Regions from separate parts of the Homo sapiens genome. Here region 1 is linked to region 2. The links come from fine-mapping of genetic effects on gene expression. Tissue or cell type: whole blood. Region 2 holds a variant in brackets; the other region holds the start of a gene. All regions are shown on one strand. Distances are between the middles of the regions.

Region 1 (2,907 bases), 69 kb before region 2:
CCATCAAATACCACGTTGAGCAACAGTTTGCTCTTCGTGGCAAACCCCATCTTAGAGGAATCAACTATTTTCTTTCATTTACCCAGCTATGTAAACAAAACCTGCAAGTGCGGTAATAAAAGAAAAAAACACCTCAAATCTAGAAATATGTAATGTAAATAACTCCTCTTAAGTTTCTGCCAGGATTCGTTTGCTGTAAAATCCTGGAAGCAACGGGCCTAGAACTTGAGCAATCAATGGGACCGGGCTGACATCGGCTGTTGTCTTGAAACTCAACAGAGCCAGAGTTCTGTGTGAATATCCACCAGCTGCTACCAGCATAAGGCCTGACTAACCAGAGCAACGCAGGTGAACCTCCACAAAGGAACAACCCAGGACAGCAGCAGGCACCGGGGACTCGGATGCAGAACTGGTCAGCTCCCGGCGCCACGCTCTCACGGCCCAAGATTCCCTACCCTCTGCGGACTCATCGCGGCACCGCAAGGGCTATTATTTTCCTAAAACTCGGAGGAAGTGTTTGTAGTGTTGCCTAGGCAGACAAGTTTGTAGAAGCTCTTTAAAGGGAAACAATAACAACAACAAATTCTGCAATATGTTTTCCCGCTTCCAACCTCTCAACCCCCACCCCCGCCTACTTTTAAAAGAACCAACGAAATGGCTCAAGGGAGGTCAGGACAAACGGATTTGGCTTGCAATGACACCATTTTTATCAGAACCCAGCCTTCGGGGAACGTAGGGGAGGGAGGTGGAGGAGACAAGCCCCTGCAGCATGAACTCTGGGTCCCAGCGGTCCCCAAGATATGGGGGGTGGGGGAGGGCAGCCGCTTCCTTGACTCTCAGGACCGCAAAGCTTCCCCATCCCCCGACGCCTGGGAGTCACCAACCCGGGCCTGTCTGCGTGTCCCCCCTCCCGGGGTCCCAGGCTCGAACAGGCGCCCCGCGAGACAGCCATCAGGAGAGGGCGGGCACCAGGAGCGTCCCTGGCTCCCTAAGGCCCTGTTGGGAGAGACGGGTCGGGCCTCAGAGGAGTCCAGTCTAGGGGTCCCGCTGGGGGTATTGGGGGCGAGAGGGCGCCTAGCGGGCTGGCCATCAAGGAAGGAGGGCTGAGGGCGGGGGCCGCGGGGATGCAGACCGTCCAGCGCCAGCATGGAGGGGAAGTCCTTGCAGTTGGAGACGCCCGTGGAGTCGGTAACGCACGCCTTCCACAGGTTGGCCCAATAGGTGGCGGTTGTGATGACCGTGCCGTCGATGGTAGACACCTTCCAGTAGTCGGTGGGCAGCGTGGAGGACACCAGTACCCAGCCTGAGATGGAGACCATGAAGGCGATGATCTCCGAAGCCGTGCTAGCCATGCCGCCGGCTGCAGCCGCGCTCGCTCTCCGGCTCCCACTCTGCGCCGCGACCCCCGCACTCCCAACCCCGGGGCTCCGCCTCCCGCCTCCGCCTCCGCCCACCGTCCCCGCCCACCACCCCGCCCAGCGGACCCGGCGCCAGGGGGCGCACGCGACCCCTCACACCCATGCCCTGTCCCTTGAGGGGCCTCAGAGGGCTCGCGGTCGCCCCCCGGGTTCTCCATCTGCAGCTGGCCCGCGCCCGCGTGCGGGAGGAAGGCCGGCCTGCGCTCCCCTGAGCCAAAGGGCCGCGGAGAAGGGCTCGCTTGTTGGAGCGGCTCAGGTTCAGACTGGCAACCGGGTGTGGACAACCTGCTGCGCCCCCACCTCACCACCCCCACCCAGCCCTACCCAAGGCAAATAGCTTGGCTTCCTGACTACCTTGTAGAAGCAGAGCAGGAAAAGCCTTTTGCATGCCCTGAAAGGACACGGTTTGGTAACTCAGCCCTCGGTTTGCTGAACTCTAAAGGTTTGCGTGCCACGCTTGTTTGGGTGACTCTGTTTGACTTGTCAAGGAGGGATCATTGCAGATTCTGGGCTGGAAACCGGCCTTGCCCTCAAAACTCTGCAGTTCTTTTTGGCCTGGTGCTATGCGGAAAGTCATGGCAAAACGGTGCGTGGCACAGGCCTAAAGTCAAGATAGCAGCAGATGGGGCATCCTGACGATCTTGATCTTGCTGGTGTACTCATACTAATGCACTACGCAGAGGGCATTTGTTCAACACATTTTCCCTGTAGGTCCCTTCCAGCTTCCAGGTCTAGAGGCTATTCTATGAAAGGATGCTGTTATCCCAGTCAAAACTGCTATCTTGTCTTTTATTTTTTTTTAAACCACCTCCATCTCTCACGCCTAATTGAAATATAAACTCATTCATTCCTTCATCCCTTCATTGCTGTCTCAAGGTAAACATAAAGATCAAGGTGTACTTCTGGCTCCTGAGGCCACAAATCTGGGCATAAATGAGAGAACAAGGACACGGGTTATTATTTGTCCACTTAAAGGTTCTTGCAGTTTTGTTATGAGCTTCCAGGTTTCACTTGTTGCCAAAAGTAAGGAAAGGTCTAAAACCTATCAATCAGTCTGCTGTGATAAATCTCGTGCTAACCCTCTGTGTCACTATCTTTAGGCAGAAACACTCTGGTTCAATGTGAAGAATTTCTTAATTTCCCTTTGTCACTTTTTTTTTTTAACCAAATGGGTGCCCAGTGAAATTAGAGGCGACAAGGTGACTGGAGAAGAGAGGAAGCTGGACATAGAATCATCAAAACTTAGATTGGAAGAATCACTGTAGACCAGCAGGACACGCTCCACACTCAAAACAATGTTCCTGTCTATTTCTAGAGATAATGTTTAGCCCATGCTCCACCCTTCAGGACCAGCAGTTCAGTGCATGGCAACGTATCTATTCTGTTTTTCTTCATGTTGTTTTGACAGCCCTTTAAAAAAGCTTTTCTTCCTATTGAGCCCCAAATCTGTCTCTCTTCAATGTCTACCCGAATGTTGTAATCTGTGCTC
Region 2 (2,907 bases):
CCTCCTTATCAAAGGGACCAGGCGCAGTGCTAGGCTTCAGGTCCCCGTCAGCCTGTAGAATTATCCAAGCAAACCAAACACATCCTCTTACAGGAACCAGGGGCACCTCGCCCTCTTGTTACTACAAAGCCTGCCTCCCACAGCTTCCTGGTGGTTCACTCTGTTCCCAGCTGCAACCCCCACGTGGCTCTCTGTGGGGCAGTGTCGTCCTTCCCTGGGCCATGAGCATATGTGACTAATTACCTGCTGCCCATCTCATCTGTCTAGGCTTGGATGTTGTACATTCAACCATCCTCTCAACTCTAGGGCGGAATCCCTCCCTCACCAGTGGGGTGAAGTGGAGGCAAACTAAATCAAACTAAATAAGACCCCATCATACCATGTTGTATTGCACTCTGCTTCTTTTTTTTTTTTTTTTTTTTTTTTTTTTTTGAGACAGGGTCTCACTTTGTTACCCAGGCTGGAGTGCAGTGGCACAATCTTGGCTCATTCCAACCTCCACCTCCTGGGTCCAAGCGATTCTTGTGCCTCAGCCTCCCGAGTAGCTGGAACTACAGGTGCTTGCCACCACACCTGGCTAATTTTTGTGGGTTTTTTTTTTTTTTTTTTGTATTTTTAGTAGAGACGGGGTTTCGCCATGTTGGCCAGGCTGGTCTTGAACTCCTGACCTCAAGTGATCTGCCCACCTTGGCCTCCCAATGTGCTGGGATTACAGGCGTGAGCCACCACACCTGGCCTCATCCTGCTTCTTTACACACTTACATTTCCTGCATAACTGAAAAAACTTGACCTTGTAACACCTCTTTTCAGGGGAATGACATATAAAATTATTCATAATGACAGACTATGAAATATTTTACCAATATTTTCCTTTAAGAAAGATTAGGGAAGTAGTGTTTAGGATAGATTCTACATGGAACAAATTAGAAGTAGAAAGACCAGTCAAGAAGTATCTGAACAGAATGATAGCCGAGTGGTGTGCAGTGGATACTGTGATATGCTGCCCAGAAAGGACAGTGAAGGACATCAGGCCCCAGCTGCTAGAAGTGCTGCTGCAGTCAGCCTGTAGCTCTTAGCCCTCTCAGAAAGTGACTGAGCTGCAGAGAGCTGCCTCACCCAAGGACATGCCCTATCTTTGTCCTTTTGGGCTGCTATCCTACCAGAGACTAAGTAGTTCAAAAACAACAGAAATGTATTTCTCACAATTCTAGAGGCTGGGAAGGCCAAAGTCAAGGCACCAGCAAATTTGATGCCTGGTGAGGGTTGGCTTCCTAACTGATAGAGAATGTCTTCTTACTGTATCCTCATGTGGTGGAAGGGATAAGGGAGGGACCTCTCTGGGGTGTCTTCTATAAGGGCACTAATCCCATCCCGAGGGCTCCATCCTTGTGACCTAATCACCTCCCAAAGGCCCCACATCCCAATACCATCACCTTGGGGGTTAGCATTTTAACATACGAGTTTTGGAGGGACACAAATATTCAGACCATAGCACACTCATGCCTGGGGAAG[C/G]TCATATCGAGTGACCAATGGATGGTGGAGCATAAGGGCTTGGCCAGCTCAGCCATGCTTGGCATGTTTCTAAAAGTCCACCTAACTCCAGAGCTCTTGGTGAGGTTTGCTGAGACTGTCAGCCTTGGGTTGTAGCTCAACGTCACTGCTCTGCCCACTCCTGCTTCTGTCCCCTACCTTCCACAGGTGTGGTCCCTCCCACAGGCACGCCTTCATGAAATGCCTCTTTAGAGTCTGGTTTCTGGGGATACAACCTGTGATGCTTAAAAAATTAAGAGGCCGGGCACAGTGGGTCATGCCTATAATCCTAGCACTTTGGGAGGCCAAAGCAGGAGGATTGCTTGAGCTCAGTAGTTGAAGACCAGCCTGGGCAACATAGTGAGACCATGTCTCTACAAAAAATTTTAATAAAAAAGAAAGAAAAAAAATTAGAGATGAGAAATGAGGGGAGGAGAGGGAAATTGAGAAATAAGCTTAGATAATTTTCACCCTAAGGGTAAATCTCCCAAATAATGTTTCCCCATCTTCTCAGAGAGCCCACAGTCTGAACGAGGAGAAAGCTGTTCAATGAAAAATCAATAAGTAGTCAGGTGAATCCTCCAGGAATCTGCACAGAGTGGCAGTGCCACACCTTTTACATAAACCAACCTCCTCACTCTCCCCTCCTCAGCAGCTCCCAGGCCTGAGGACGGGCAGCGTCACTTTCTCCCAAGAACGATGGAGAATCATTTCTCACCAGTAAGAATGTTGGCCTCACATTAAATTCGTGATGTTTAATGGGCTTATTTATGTATTTATTTATTTTTGAAATGGAGTTTCGCTCTTGTTGCCCAGGCTGGAGTACAGTGGCACGATCTTGGCTCATTGCAACCTCTGCCTCCTGGGTTCAAGAGATTCTCCTGTCTTAGCCTCCGGAGTAGCTGGGATTACAGGCACACGCCACCATGCCAAGCTAATTTTTTGTATTTTTAGTAGAGATGGGGGTTTCACCATGTTGGCCAGGGTGGTCTCAAACTCCTGACCTCAGGTGATCCACCCACCTCAGCCTCCCAAAGTGCTGGGATTACAGGCGTGAGCCACCGCGCCCAGCCAGTTTATTCATTTATACTTCAATCAGGATTAAGTACATCATGAGAATAAAACAATCCAGATGGTTCTGAGACTGAATCTGAGCTCCTGGGTAACACAGCAGGGTGGATCTGGACTAGACTTCCTGCCCTGGATCAGCAAGATTGGTCTCATAGGTGTGCACTGAAGGCAGCCCGAGAAGGTGTGATTTGATGGGCACCTAGAAGACCCATCTATCCCCAAAAGACATGACTCAGTGAGGCTCTAGACCCTTTCTGCCACAGCAGCTTCATGTGGGCTTTGTAGATCAGCACAGCTCTTAGACCC

Evidence for each region. PIP is the estimated chance that this variant, and not a neighbour inherited with it, causes the effect. A credible set is the group of variants that fine-mapping cannot tell apart.
Region 1: CLDN10 starts here. The variant in region 2 is the best candidate, but not a certain one, in a credible set for the expression of CLDN10 in whole blood (TOPMed, PIP 0.57).

Annotation. Positions count from the first base shown.
Region 1 is chr13:95,551,199-95,554,105 of GRCh38, reverse strand. It overlaps CLDN10 (claudin 10), which reads right to left and starts at 1,386. Exons shown (of 5, transcript NM_006984.5): 1 at 1,133-1,386. The coding sequence starts at 1,352.
Region 2 is chr13:95,482,391-95,485,297 of GRCh38, reverse strand. The region is part of intron 3 of CLDN10-AS1 (CLDN10 antisense RNA 1); the gene reads left to right. It also overlaps a transcript of CLDN10 not described here. Among named protein-coding and RNA genes, the nearest start is that of CLDN10-AS1, 50 kb to the left of the region's middle. The variant C/G (reference allele first, on the strand shown) is at 1,513.